3 separate regions of the Homo sapiens genome follow, and all the other regions are linked to region 2. The links come from fine-mapping of genetic effects on gene expression. A gene starts in region 2. Each other region holds a variant in brackets. All regions are shown on one strand. Distances are from middle to middle.

Region 1 (5,227 bases), 150 kb before region 2:
TCTACTTAAAATTTAGTCATTTCTTTCTGTTTACATTTTGTTTGGCTACAAAAGATACTTTATAATTCAGCAAACATTATCTTTTTCCTTCATTATTTACTTTGTTTCATATAATTTAAGTTCTAACATTAATTTAATTTTTTAAAAAAGCCTCACTCTGTAAGTATAGTTTCCTTCATCCTCCCTGCTCCTTTCTTTAGATTCTAAACTGATTTTCTCTTGAAGAGCAGGAAAAGGTTCAACTGAAAAAGACAGCTAGCAGTGGTGCTCTTTCCCAACCCCCCTTCTCTCCACTTGGGTCACAAAGTTGTTCTATACATTGTCCTATATGCTAAGTAGGAGATGCCTTTTTAATTCAGTCTAGCTCAGATCACTGTAAGATTTTCTGCTTGTGTATAGCAACTTAGGTATTCTAGGTATTCAAGCCGTTAATTTACTCACTCAATTAGTTGTCTTTTCATACAAATAGTTTCCAAGAAGCCCTTCAGAAACACTAAAGGAATTTTGAAGTGCCATAAGTGGACCAGGGAGGGTGATGTAAAGATTATTTTTGGCAGTGCTCCTCCTTGAACCCATTTCAGCTTCCCTCCTCCTCCCTCTTTTGGGGAAAACAAGCAACCTGCTCAGGCTGCCCAGTCTTAGTCACACCTTCCCTACTGATGTTAACATTTTTAATGGTGGCAGGGTAATTGTGGAGGTGGTGGTGGTTTTTAAACAAAGCAATACTTTGCTAGAGGTTGTGTCTGTGGCACCAGTGGCTCACACCAGGCCTTGCCAGGACCCCTTCCAGTATGTCCAACACCTTCTCTGCCTGACCCAGTGAGACAGTCACAAGGCTTCAGAAGGAACTAGGGCTTACAAGTAGCTCCACTGTTCATTCGAACCTTTCCCCATGTTACTACCTGCTACTCTTGTACCGTCTGTCTTCCCCATCCTTTATCCATCCTTTATCTTATTCCCACTAATTTCTGCATTCTTCTGAACCCCTCCTTCTTGCCTCATTACTTTCCAGACATCTTTTTTTTTTTTTCTTTTTTTTTTTTTTTTACCTGAGATGGAGTCTTGCTCTGTCCCACAGGCTGGAGGGCAGTGTTGCGATCTCGGCTCACTGCAAGCTCTGCCTCCCGGGTTCACGCCATTCTCCCGCCTCAGCCTCCCGAGTAGCTGGGACTACAGGCGCATGCCGCCACGCTCGGCTAATTTTTTGTATTTTTAATAGAGATGGGGTTTCACCGTGTTAGCCAGGATGATCTCGATCTCCTGACCTCATGATCTGCCCGCCTTGGCCTCCCAAAGTGCTGGGATTACAGGTGTGAGCAATTGGGCCCGGCAAGAGAAAGTCACAGCTTTTGAAAGTAGAGAATAGACTGCAATTTCACACGGTACAAAGATACCCATGTGAAAATATGTATTGATTGAAGGAGGGAAGGACATAATGCCTGCATCAACTTAATTCCCCTGGGGCTATCCTCCTCTGAGGTTGCTCTGCCACTTAGGACCTTTCAGTAACTTGCAGCCAACTGAAACATTTGAAGAATATTATCTGCTGGTCACAGTGACAGCAAAGAAAAAATTAATTATATAAGAAGCTTTAAGGACCAGACAACTATTCTGGCCAACAAGCCAGAAGATAATCTTTCAATATGGAAAACTTGGACCCTATATGGTTATCGAATAAGTAGAAAATAACTTTGATACTTAGCAATTGGCTTTCCAAACAAAACAATCATGAAAAAGTGATGGAGCTCCTGAATTTTTCACAGAACTGAATTTTTCTCAGAAAATAAATACAGCAAATGAAAATGAAACACTTTAGCTGCCATTAAGAAAGGATTTTCCAAAAACAAACAAAATGAAAAGATAAATAAAAGGTACTCTTCCAAACCCATTTAAGACATAGCCATAAGCTTTTTCACTAGAACCATATTTTTTAAATGTATAGGTCTGTAGACTGCTAGAACAGAAAAAGCCAATGGAGAACACAAAGCGAAGCAACAGTTCCAGCTCACAGAGCTCAGAATGAAAAGAGAGTCGGAATCCAAGCTTCCTCACTTCCAGCCCACTTTTCATCCTACTCTACACATTACGTTCCTGCTCAACATGACTTTGCTTAATGTTCAAAT[G/A]CTGGAAACTATGACAACAAAGGCCTCCATCATAAAGCTTCAAAGCTAGGAGATGAAAATAGGTTACAAACACACACGTACACACACGTATGTATGACCCACATTTAAGTGTAATCACATCTTAGTATAACCCAAGGGGAGAGGCACGTGTGGCAAAATCATTGGATTGGGAGCCAGGCTTTCCAATGAACTCATATGTGAAACTTACTCAAATTATTTCATCTCTTAGTGCCTTCCTGGATCTCTAAGACCCCTTCCTGATCTAATATTTTATGGTACTCTAAGATAACTCTTACCTACAGTGGTGAAGTGTGCTTTTCAAAAATGTGGCTTTTAGAGGCACAAGGAAAGTTTCTCAGGACAAAAACCCAGGAGTCGTCTTGATTTCTCTCTTATACCCACACAGCAATTATCTAAGTCTTCCTTGCAGGCATATTTGGCATAGAATTGCCTAGCATTTCCATTGCCCCCTTTCTCTTCTCAAAGCCAGAAGCCTTCCGATGGCCTACACGGCCTATATGGTGTGGCTCCCCACTTCCTTCCTTACTTCATCTACTACCTCTCCTTCCTTCCTGGCCCTCTGCCATGCTGATCCTGCTGAGCCTCACACCTGACAGCCAAGTATCCACCTCAGGGCCTATGCATTTGCTGTTCTCATTTATTCACCTCCTTCAGGCCTCTGCTCAAAGATCTCTTCGTCAGAGTGACCTTCTTCAACCACTCCACAGAAAGAGTACCCACCCAAACCTGTAGTCTCTATTCCTTCTCATTTTTTTCCATAGCACTTATCACTACCATTCAAATTATTTTTAATTGTCATTTCTCTCTTTCCCCACGAGAATGTAAGCTCCATGAAAACAAGTACAGGTTGACCACTCTAGGAAGAGAAAGTTTATTAGAGAATTCCAGGAAGCTGGCAAATGCCCTTCCGCAGCTTTTCAGGTGGGATTCCAACCATCCCACTTCCTTCCAGGCAAAGACATTTCTTCCTGATCTCTGCAGAAATAATTCCACTTCCTCTTATTTCCAGAACTGAACAATATTTGTCCCTTCCATATACTAGGCCCTTGATATTTTCAGAAAAGGGTACTTAAAATGAAACAAGCTGGGGAAGGCTTTTGGAAATGAGTGAGCAAACATGTCAGCAGAGTGATCTTCATCAATGCTGTGTTCAAGTCTTTTGACAAGCTGGATTACCCAGGCCATTTGTGATCACTGGAGTTACTTGGTTTAAACTTTTCAGGCTGGGAGTGTGGCAATGACTGAGGCAAGCCACAAGTGCCAAGTGGTTAATTACATTTCCATTACTAATTGTAGTGTAGCATTGTGTTCTCACAGTGAAGTAACATCTAGCGTTTGAGAACTTTCCCAGTTTCAGTTCTCCCAGGGTCACTGAGCTCCTTCCTGGGTAAGAGGACTAACTCTGTTATCTCCATTCTTTCACAATTTTAGGAAAGCTGATTTTAGGCTTTGTGAAAGAGTTGTCCTCTTTACATTTCTGCCTCTATTAACCATGTATCACCTGGGCTTTCTTCAGCCTTTATTTCCTCAAACTGCCTAAACTAAACCTAGAAGGCAGGAAATGCTGGCTTTCTGGGTGATTCCTTCAGCAAATCTCCCCACATGCTCCCATCAAGCTTGAGATCCTCTGTCAGTTTTCTCCCTTCTTCTGAGTAGAACTACTAAACTTAATTAGGACACTGGACAGGAGTTTCTGGCAGAGCAGCAGTATAATAAAACATATCATAAGAAAGTTAACAGGGCCCAGCTCTGAGCAAAGTTACCATCCTGAAAGGCCTAATCATCCAAAGACGGAAAGGTCTTTCTCATGATGTAAAGAGCTGACTCCAAACTGACTCCAAACCCAGAGCCTCATAAAATCATGGAGCCAGGTAGCAAATCTTTCATCCTACAGGTATTTAGAAGGGAACAAGTGTAGCTCTGTATCATCAGAGACTCCTCATATAGGAAGTGGGGAATGATCTTCATTCCCGTAGATTATGAAATGTTGCATTTTTTTCCATTAATTTAAACAATATTATTTGATGGCATCCCTTGGCCCCCACCAGGCTGCCTCACCGACAGATGTCCACCAGCTGATCCAGCTCGGGGCAGCTGCACTCATACATGTCCCGGCAGCTCATGTGGCTCTGGTTCATCAACTCTCCCAGCAGCTGGACCATGTTTTCAGGTGCTTCTTCACATATCTTCTTAAACTGGAGCACTCGCGCAGCCTCGCTGTACACATGCTTTGCCCGCTGATAGAGTTTGAAGATGAGCACTGAGGAAGGAAGAGGATGGGGAAGGAGGTTAGGAATAGTTACTGGACAACCCAGTATAAAGAAAAATACACTTTTAAAGACTTTCATTTCTGTTTTCATTATCAGTATCTTAAACTTCAATAGGTCTCTCTTGCTGAAAGGATTCTTTCAATTGAAATGTGTCTATCGGCAAGTCAGGTTTACTTTTTTCTTGATACTGAATAAAATCTTGTAACTATATTTCCTTCACTTCACTCAACACACATGTGCATATACTTGTGTGCAATCTAATCCATCCCAAATGAAGACAGACCTAACATGTAATGAGTACACCCTACATGCCAAACACTTTAAAATACTACTTTGTGTAGGCCAGGCGCGGTAGCTCACATCCGTAATCCCAGCACTTTGGGAGGCCGAGGCAGGTGGATCATCTGAGGTCAGGAGTTCAAGACCAGCCTGACCAACATGGTGAAAACCCATCTCTACTAAAAGTACAAAAATTACCTGGGCATGATGATGGTGGGTGCATGTAATCCCAGCTATTTGAGAGACTGAAGTGGGAGAATTGCTTGAACCTGGGAGGCAGAGGTTGCAGTGAGCTGAGATCACGCCGTTGCACTCCAGCCTGGGCGATAGAGCACGACTCCGTCTCAAAAAAAAAAAAAAGAAAGAAAGAAAAGTACTACCTCATAAAGTTCTCATCACAGCACTGAGGGATGTGCAGTATGATCCCTGTTAACAGAAAAGAGAAGGAGGCTCAATAGAGTGAAGTGACATGCTTAAGGACACACATCCAGAATGTGGCGGAAGCCAAACAGATCAGGGATGCCTGGCCCTAGA
Region 2 (5,227 bases):
ATATACTTTTAAATAATCCAAATTTTTAATATTAAAAATGTATTCAGTGTCACCCTGCTAGCTCAACTGGTAGAATAGAGACTCAAGAATGTGTTCATACAGCAGCATTATTCATAAGAGCCAAAAGATAGAAGCAACCCAAATGTCCATCAATTGTTGAATGTATAAACAAAATGTATATCCATAAGCTAGAATATTATTTAACCATAAAAAGGAATGATATACTGATACATGTTAAATGATGTACTGATACATGAACCTTCAGAACATTATGCCACATGGAAGAAGCCAGTCACCAAAAAAACACACATTTTATATGATTCCATTCATTTGAAATGCCCAAAGTGACTAAATCTATAAATACAGAAAACAGAGCAGTAGTTGTTTAAGGCTAGGTGAGGGGAAAGGGAATGGAGTTCTGGGGTGTGATAATCTAAGGGATGGCTGGGTTCTTTCTAAGAAAACGTTCTAAATTTGATTATGGTGATGGTTGCATAGCTCTATGAATACATTAAACCCATTTAATTGCAAACTTTAAATGAATTAGTTATATGATACGTGAATGTCAATAAAACTGCTACAAAAATAGCAATAATCCAACAAGTTTTAAAACTTAATCCAAAAGAGAAAGTAAAGATAAGAGATACAACTGCTAAGAATGCAAAGAAAGCCAGAACAGTGAAATTCAGAGTCTTACGGTACCGGTACCATGCAAGAGTGGGACACAGAAAGAAAATATTAGAACTTCAATTTCTATTTGATTTTTACATAAAAATAATAAAAATAAAATTAAGTTTTACTAAAATGTATGATATGGTTGACCAGTGCCTTTACTCAAAGGATCATGTGCCTTGTGAGGTTGAAGAGGCATCCTGGAAAAAGAATAAGAGTTCCACAAGAAAGCAGGCTGACCATTCATTCATTTTTTTTCCTTCTCAGCATATTGCAATACTTGACCGGTTAGGTGAATTTATAGATTATACTATTTAGATTTAATAAAATACATCCCTCCTAGAATGAGTAAGTGGCTGCAAAACATTCCTGCAAATAAAACATTGCTTGAAGCTAATAATTGCATTTTGTGCACAAATGAAAAACAAGAAAACGGCAGAGCTTATCTACTATGATCTCTTCTGTGGATAACACAGAATAAATATTAACAATAAATATTTGTTACATGAATAATATAAAAATCATGAAAAGCAAGAAGAACACTAAGGAAATTCAGTAAACAATTCTTCACTTTTAGTACATGTACCTATACTTGTTACCACCATCCTCCCCCAAACAGGGTAAATATAGATAGAAATGTTGATCTTTATTATTACAATCACATAAAATGGAAACACATTAGGAATTTACACATGGGTATGTTTTATGTAGAAGATTAAACTATAGACGTGGCACGGTGGCTCACGCCTGTAATCCCAGCAATTTGGGAGGCTGAGACGGGCGGATCACTTGAGGTCACAAGTTGGAGACCAGCCTGGCCAACATGGCGAAACTCCGTCTCTACCAAAAACACAAAAAAATAACGGGGCGTGGTGGCGGGCACTTGTAATCCCAGCTACTCTGGAGGCTAAGGCAGGAGAATGGATTGAACCTGGGAGGTGGAGGTTGCAGTGAGCGGAGACTGCGCCACTATACTCCAGCCTGGGCAACAGAACAAGACTCTGTCTCAAAAAAAAAAAATAAGACTAAACTACAAGAGATCAAGTTATTTTCATGTAACAAATTTCTCATTAATCTTATTGGAAGCATGCCTTTAACAGTGTGTCTTAATTAATTCAAATATATAAGGGCAACAGTGCTATACAAGAACCTCTAGAGTATATTAAAACATTCAAAGACATTGAGAAGTAGTCCAAAGCTGTGCTGGACTCTATAATAAGAAATCATGCTTCTTTCTGGTAACTAAAGACACACTGTTTGCTGGTTTAAGGATGAAAGAACATTTTCAAGTTGTAGTAAAGTATAATATCATCAACTGACACACGGTGGTAATAAACCACCAAGTAGGAAGAGCTTAAGGACTTGATGCCAGAGAAAAAAACTAACAGAAAAAAACTGAAAACAGCAAAGGCAGAGGGCCGGGCGCGATGGCTCACGTCTGTAATCCCAGCACTTTGGGAGGCCAGGGTGAGCGGATCACTTGAGCTCAGGAGCTCGAGACCAGCCTGACCAACATAGAGAAACCCCATCTCTGATGAAAATACAAAATTAGCCGGGTGTGGTGACGCCTGCCTGTAATCCCACCTACTCAGGAGGCTGAGACAGGAGAATCGCTTGAACCTGGGAGGCGGAGGTTGCGGTGAGCCAAGATGGCGCCACTGCACTCCAGCCTGGGCAACAAGAGCAAAACTCCGTCTCAAAAAAAAAAAAAAAAAGAAAAAGAAAAAGAAAAAAGAAAGGAAGGAAGAAAGAAAAGAAAAGAAAAACAGCAAAAGCAGAGAGTCAGGAAAGCCCTTCGCTAATGTAGCAGGTGACAGACTTCATTTTATGAGACCTCAGCCCCATTAGTCAGAACGAAGTATTTCTACAAAGTACCTGTAACTGAAAAGATCCTCCCCGAGACATCACTAAACTATTAGTTACTGTGTAGCTAGGGACTGCCAGCAAATTAATTCCCTAAGTGACAGTTCAGAGATTCTCGTGTTTTTGTTTTGTTTTGTTTTAAAGAGGATGCAGACACCAAGAAGGTTTTTGTGTTTGTTTTCAATTAATATTTAGAAAGAAGACTTTTAAAAAGCAGTATCAACTGGCATGCGAGACAAAGAGAGGAGTTCAGTGTGGATATGGGCATTTCTGCTGAAGCCCAGTAGAAAGAGTACACTAATTACAACAAGAAAAGGAAAAGAAGAATCTGCATGGATGAAGAAAAAAACATACAACCCTTCGTAGTAGTCAAGGTAGAATGTGTTTGCGGCGTGATCTTTTTTGCAAGCCCAGCCACGTGTCCTTATAGAATCCCAAGGGTTCCACTTGCTCCCCGGGACCAAAAGCAGCGCCCCAAGGGAGGAGCCAAGTGCTGTGGACCCGATCTACACGTAGCCAACCCAGCAGATCCCAAAGCCCGGCGTCTCCTCTCCCCCACCTAGGATGTTCTGCCACCTGGACCCGACGCGTAGCAGGGCTCTCTGTAGCCATATTTCGCTAGATCCTTCTTTCTCCTGTAGTTTCAAGTGTCTAAGCAAAGCTCCCAGAGCAATCACGAGACTTCTGTGACAGGAGCCGTTTTCTTCCGGGAGATAAACAGCTCCCGCCCTGCGGAAATCCTGCAGCTTCGCTGAGGTGGCTGCTTCCAATCGGCCCCTCCTCTGGCTCCTCCTCCCTGGACTCAGCCAGGGTTCCCTCCAAGCAGCAGTCAGGTACAGCCTCCGTCCTGCTCTTAGCTCCCAGGGAGGGACTAGGGCCTCGCAGGAGCCCCTGCGCAGAGCACGTGCGAAGCTGACTAGTGAGGTTTTCTTTTTGCGCCCTGTGGATGTCAGAGAACAGTGTCATAACCTGGCGCCCTACATACACCTAGTTTCTGATCTGTCTCGGGCTGCGTTTTTTTGTTTGTTTGTTTGTTTTTTAGTTATGGTTTTGGTCTTTATTGTTCAGCAGCTACTCCCCAAACAACACTAAAATGTTTAGCTATTGCTTCTTTGCGGATTACTTCCAAATCAAGCAACATAAAATTGATGTATCACTTGATTTAAATAGATTTGCATTTATTTACAGGTTAGAGGCATTGGTGGGCCTTCCTAGAACACAGTAGTGAAAAGACGGAAACACATGCCTTTTAATGTGCAAGACCCCTTAGCATCCAGTTAAACCTCTTCATTTTTCACTTATCTAGAGAAATCCTAGATGCCCTATCAAAAGTACACTATCCCTAGTACATCACTAACTTTTCCTTCCTTCATAGTTCTCCTATTTGCTTATGTATTTATTGTGTCTCTCACCACCTCCATCATCACTACCACTAGAAAGCAACTGGGGGCAGGCAGATTGGTTTTTAATGAATAGGTAAGATAAACTGAATGAACGACGAAAGGTGAAATGATGTGCCTGAGGTCACAGTGATCATTGGGAACAAAACTGGAATTAAAATTCAGATCTATTAACTCTCAATCTAGTGCACTTTGCACCTCAGAAATATTGAGATTAAACCCAAGCAAAGACAGCTAGCAATAAACCCATTCCAAAGTTTCCTGATTAAGGAAGTTTGAGCCAACATGCCCAACACACTAGGGGTAGTAGCATAACTCAGAGAGATTCGATAAGTTGTATACATCAGTAAGTTACTGCTCCAGAATTTCTATATGTATATGCATACTTTGTCTCCATGTTTCCTTCCCCCTTCTGTATACATGTATACAGGAGGAAGGGGGAAGGAAACATGGAGACAAAGTGTGAATGGACAATAAAGCATAGCCAAAGAGTGGCAGCCCCTTGGCACCCCGTTGGGTTATTACTGTAAATGATACATCAAAGAAACAAAGTTACTCTGGTCTCAGGGCAGCTTTCTCACTATTATTTCAGTCCCTCTTTATCATTTTCAAATGAATGAATTATATCTTCTTGTTTCTGGGCCCCAATAAATCCCAGTTTGATGTTCATTTTGGTTTAATTTTGAGTAACAGGAGTCATCACTGTCACTTGTAAATAGTTTTAATAGGGAGATAACCTAAATTTTAAAAAAAAATGTAAAATGTTTAGGGACATCAGTAAATACAGAAAAGAACAGAATCTTTTTTTTTTTTTTTAGATGGAGTTTCGCTCTTTGTTGCCCAGGCTGGAGTGCAATGGCATGATCTCTGTTCACTACAACCTCCACCTCCCAGGTTCAAACGATTCTCCCGTCTCAGCCTCCCAAGTAGCTGGGAATACAGGCAGCCGCCACCACACCAGCTAATTTTTGTATTTTTAGTAAAGACGGGGTTTCACCATGCTGGGCAGGCTGGTCTCGAGCTCCTGACCTCAGGTGATCAGCCCACCTCGGCCTTCCAAAATTCTGGGATTAAAGGTGTGAGCCACCGTGCCCAGCCCAGAATCATTTTTTATTCAGATGTTTCTAATATATTCTTTTGCATTAGTTGAAAAATAACAAATTTTAAAGTTTTGAATTTTTTTAACAGTCCAAAATAAACTCATTTTATACAGGGTTAAAAAAAAATGACTGTAGAAACTGTTTCGAAAAAGAATACTTCCTACTGAATATGTACTTGATGACCGAACATTA
Region 3 (5,227 bases), 53 kb before region 2:
ATAATGAAGATCAGAATAGAAGTAAATAAAGTAGCTACTAAAAAAAAACATAAAGGGTTAAAGCTTTTGGAGGGATAGCAGATAAGGTGGCTGACTAGACACAGCCAGGAAGCACCACTCCCACTGAACGAGACTAAAAATTAAGTAAACTAATAAACTTTGAGCAAATCTTAGACAGAAAACACCAAGAGTAGATAGAGAAGCAACACTGACACTGAGGCTGAAAAGAGAAGAAGCTGGGAACCTTGTGTGGGGTTGCTGAATGCTAGGGCTCATGCTCAGCCCTGAAAGCCTCCTGAGGGAGGGGTTAGTGAAGGGATAGTGGGGCAACCCACTCTTGCTGCAGATCTCCAATCCTAGGTACAAGAGATCCTATGACGCCCATAAACATTTAAACTGGCAAGGGGATCTGCCTGGAGAGTAGGCAGTAAAAGTACTCCAGCCTATATGGAATGGAGGTTTGGCACACATGACAGCCGCAAGCAGAATACAGCCATAGGTGCCCATCCCCCAACGCTCCCCTTCTTCCTCTGAGTAACTCTAACCCCAGTTGACCACTGGGTCAAGAGAACAGGGCTGACTTTCCAGTGGGAATGGGGCATGTCTGTTCTGCAGGCACTCCTGCCCACCAGCCCCTTCCAAGGCCTCTGCCCAGCTGCTCTAACAGGAACATGAGTACAGTGCAGCCTCCACTGCCCAGTATGGGTGCTTTATCAAAAGGCCAGCCTGAGTACTTTCTCAGAGGTCTGGAAGCAGTTGGAATCCCCCAGCACAGTTGGTGCTGTGCCAAAGGGAGCCAAAAGATGGAGCTGTGGGCCAGTCCCAACAGCTCAGGGCTGCAGCATGCAGCTTGGGAATCTTGAGCCAAGATCTGTAGCCAGTGCTAGAGCAGGGAAGGAGCCCACACCCTCAGAAGACAGAGAGGAGTGAAACACAGAGGCTTGTAAGCCAGCACCAGAGAAGGGCATCTCTCCCTCTACAGCAGCAGTCCCCAACCTTTTTAGCACAGGGACCAGTTTTGTGGAAGACAATTTTTCCATGGATGGTGTATGTTGGGGAGGAGGGGATGGTTTCAGGTTGAAACTGTTCTACCTCAGATCATCAAGCATTGGATTATCATAAGGAGCATGCAACCTAGATCCCTCCCACATGCAGTCCACAATAGGGTTCATGCTTCCATGACAGTCTAATGCCACTGCTGATCTGACGGGAGACCGAGCTCAGGTGGTAATAATGCTCACTCACCCACCACTCACCTCCTGCTGTGTGGCCCACTTCTGAACAGGCCATGAAGCAGTAACAGGGATTGGGGAACCCTGCTCTACAGGACCAGTCCAAGAATGGTGTGGCCTATCTGCAGGTCATAGCCTCTGCCTGAGGGAGCCCTGCAGCCCGGAAGACCTAATTAAAGAAAAAGACAGGATCAGTGCCAGTGATCAGAGGCGGCTTCCTCAAAGCTCAGGAACAGACCTGCTGAGAGGGTCATCTGTCTCCCCCTACCCCACTATAGACCACTACTGCAAATGCACTGAAATACAAAAAAAGCTGTGAAGCTGATTAAGAGCCTATCTGCTGGCCACCACTCTTAAGCACCATTTACTGGATCACATCCCAAATTAAAACACCAAAAATAATCTGCCAATATACATCACTTGTGAAACCAGGGGCAAGAATCTAGCCACAAATAAAGATCCTGTACAGAGCCTTGGCCCTCTGAAAGCAACCAGAAATGAAGCCAATTGACTATCCTCCATTTAAACCACAGTTAAAAGAACACCACTTCTCTCAGAGGAGAATCAGTGAAAAAACTAAAGTAAAAGGAAAAAAATTGGAGTTATCACATTACCCAACTTCAAATTATACTACAAGGCTATAGTAACCAAAACAGCATAGTATTGGTACAAAAACAGATACACAGACATAGACTTATAGAACAGAATAGAAAACCCAGAAATAAAGCTGAACACCTACATCCATCTGATCTTCCACAAAGTCAACAAAAACAAGCAATGAAGGAAGGGCTCCCTATTCAATAAATGGTGCTGGTATAACTGGTTAGCCGTATGCAGTAGAATGAAACTGGACCCCTATCTTTCAGCATATATAAAAATTTATTCAAGATGGATAAAAGATTTAAATATAAGACCTCAAGCTGTATGAATCCTAGAAGAAAACCTAGGAAATGCTTAGAATTTGGCCAAGATTTTATGGCTAAATCTCCAAAAGCAACTGTGATAAAAACAAAAATTGACAAGTGAGACCTAATTAAAGAGGTTCTGCACAGCGAAAGAAACTATCAACAGAGTAAACAGATAACTCACAAAATGAGAGAAAATATTCACAAACTATGCATCTGACAAAGGTCTAATATCAGAATCTGTAAACATTGTAAACAAA[TAAAC/C]AAGCAAAAAACAAATAATCCCACTTAAAAATGGGCAAAGTATATGAACAAACACTTCTCAAAGGAAGACATACAAATGCAAATCAAAACCACAATGAGATACCATCTCACTCCAGTCAGAATGGCTATTATGTAAATGTCAACAAGAAACAGATGCTGGCAAGGCTGTGTAGAAAAAGGAATGCTTATACACTCTTGGTGGGAGTGTAAATTAGTTCAGCCACTGTGGAAAGCAGTTTGGAGTTTCCTCACAGAACTTAAAACAGAACTACCATTTAACCCAGCAATCCCATTACTGGGTATATACCCATAGGAAAATAAATTATTCTAAAAAAAAAAAGACACATGCACTCATATGTTCATTGAAGCACTATTTACCATAGCAAACACATGGAATCAACGCAGGTGCCCATCAATGGTGGGCTGGATAAAGAAACTGTGGTATACATACACCAGGGAATACTATGCAGCCATAAAAAGGATGAAATCATATCCTTTGCGACAACATGGATGCAGCTGGAGGCTATAGTCCTAAGCAAATTAACACAGGAAGAAAATCAAGTACTGCTGCATGTTCTCACTTATAAGTGGGAGCTAAATATGAGTACACAGGGACATAAAGATGGGAACAATAGACACTGAGGACTAGTAAGCAATGGCGGGGGCAGTAGGGAGGCAGGAAGTGTGGGCTGAAAAACTGCCTATTGGCTGCTATGCTAACTACCTGGGTGATGGGATCATCTGTACCCCAAACATCACCATTACAAAATGTATCCAAGTAACAAACCTGCACATGTAACCCCTGAATCTAAAATAAAAGTTGAAATTATTTTACTGAAAAAATACAAAGAATCAAGAAAATGGAAAGTTGATTATTTGAAAAGAAGAACAAAATTGATAAACTGCTAGCCAGATTAACCACGAAAAAAAGTGAGAAGACCCAAATAAACAAAATCAGAATCAAAAAAGGACATTACAACTGATACCATGGAAATACAAAAGCTTATCAGACACTGTTATGAACAACTATACTATACACAAACAAACCAGAAAACCTAAAGGAAATTGATAAATTCCTAAACACACAACATACCAAGATTAAATCAGGAAGAAACAAAAAACATAAACAGACTAGTAACAAGTACCAAGATTGAAACAGTAAAATGAAAAGGCTTCCAACAAAGAAAAGCCCAAGACTGGACAGCTTCACTGAAAAATTCTACCAAACTTACAAAGAACAAATACCAATCCTCTTCAAACAATTCCAATGAATTGAAGAGAAGGGAATTAACCTAGTCCCAAAAGGCAAGCATCACTCTGATGCTAAAATTAGAGAAAGGTGTAACAAAAACCAAAACTGCAGGCCAAGATCCCTATTTACATATATGTAAAAATCTTCAACAAAATTGCCGCAAACTGAATCCCACAGCACATCAAAAAGATAAAACACCATGATCAAGCGGGATTTATCCCAGGGATGCAAGGATTGTTCAAGAAACACAAATCACTAAATGTGACACATCGCATCAGTAGAATAAAGGACAGAAACCACATAATCATCTCAATAGACATAGAGAAAGCATGTAATAAAATTCAACATCCTTTCACGATAAAAACTCTCAATTATCAGGCATAGAATAAATATACCACAACACAATAAAAGTCTCATATGACAAACCCACAGCTAACATCATATCAAATAAAGAAAAGTTGAAGCCTTTCCTGTAAAACCTGGAACCCAAAAAAGATGACCAATATCACTACTCCTAGTCAACATAATACTAGAAATTTTAGCCAGAATAATCAGGCAAGAATAAAAATAGAAGGATCCAAGTTGAAATGGAGGAAGTTAAATTGTCCTGTTTCACAGGTGACATGATTTTATATCCAGAAAAACCTAGACTCTAAAAAAAACTCTTACACCTAATAAATAAATTCAGTAAAGTTGCAGTATAAAAAACCAACATACAAAAATTTGCAGCATTTCAATACATCAATAATGAACTAGCTGAGAAAGAAATTAAGCCAGAAATGCTGTTTATAATAGCTACAAAAAAAAATACCTAAGAATAAATTTAACCAAGGAGATGAAAGATCTCTAAGGAAAACTAGAAAACACTGATGAATGAAATTGAAGAGGACACAAACAAATGAAAAGACATCCCATGTTCATGGATTGGAAAAAATTAATATTGTTAAAATGAACATACTGCCCAAAGCAGTCTACAAATTCAATGCAATCCCTATGAAAATACTACTGTCATTTTCACAAAAATAGAAAAATATCCTAAAATATGTATAAAACCAAAAAAAAGAGCCCAAATAGCCAAAGCACTCCTGAGGAAAAAGAACAAAGCAAGAGGGGTCACGCTATCTGACCTCAAAATATATTATAAGGCTATAAAAACCCAAACAGCAAGGTATTGGTATCAAAACAGACACAAGTAATAATGGGACAGAAGGGAGAACCCAGAAATACATCCATGTATGTACAGCAAACTCATTTTCTTTTTTTTTTAATTTTTTTATTTTTTTCAAGACAGAGATTTTGCTCTTGTTGCCCAGGCTGGAGTGCAGTGTCACGATCTCGGCTCACTGCAACCTCCACCTCCTGGGCTCAAGCAATTCTCCTGCCTCAGCCTCCTGAGTAGCTGGGATTATAGGCACGCACCACCACACCCAGCTAATTTTTTGTATTTTTAATAGAGACAGGGCTTCATCATGTTGGCCAGGCTGGTCTCAAACTCCTGACCTCAGGTGATCTGCCTGCCTCAGCCTCCCAAAGTGCAGGGATTATAGGCATGAGCCACCACGCTCGGCCAGCAA

What was found. PIP is the estimated chance that this variant, and not a neighbour inherited with it, causes the effect.
Region 1: its variant is fine-mapped to the expression of GALK2 in whole blood (TOPMed, PIP 0.99).
Region 3: its variant is fine-mapped to the expression of GALK2 in blood mononuclear cells (TOPMed, PIP 0.96).

The regions. Positions count from the first base shown.
Region 1 is chr15:49,318,781-49,324,007 of GRCh38, reverse strand. GALK2 (galactokinase 2) reads right to left here. Exons shown (of 10, transcript NM_002044.4): 9 at 4,203-4,404. Among named protein-coding and RNA genes, the nearest start is that of FGF7, 100 kb to the left of the region's middle. The variant G/A (reference allele first, on the strand shown) is at 2,124.
Region 2 is chr15:49,168,243-49,173,469 of GRCh38, reverse strand. GALK2 (galactokinase 2) reads right to left here and starts at 3,223. Exons shown (of 10, transcript NM_002044.4): 1 at 3,095-3,223. The coding sequence starts at 3,147. It overlaps MIR4716 (microRNA 4716), which reads left to right and starts at 4,317; the gene lies at 4,317-4,400. RefSeq lists enhancers at 3,036-3,275, 2,907-3,811.
Region 3 is chr15:49,221,379-49,226,605 of GRCh38, reverse strand. The region is part of intron 3 of GALK2 (galactokinase 2); the gene reads right to left. Among named protein-coding and RNA genes, the nearest start is that of GALK2, 54 kb to the right of the region's middle. The variant TAAAC/C (reference allele first, on the strand shown) is at 2,398.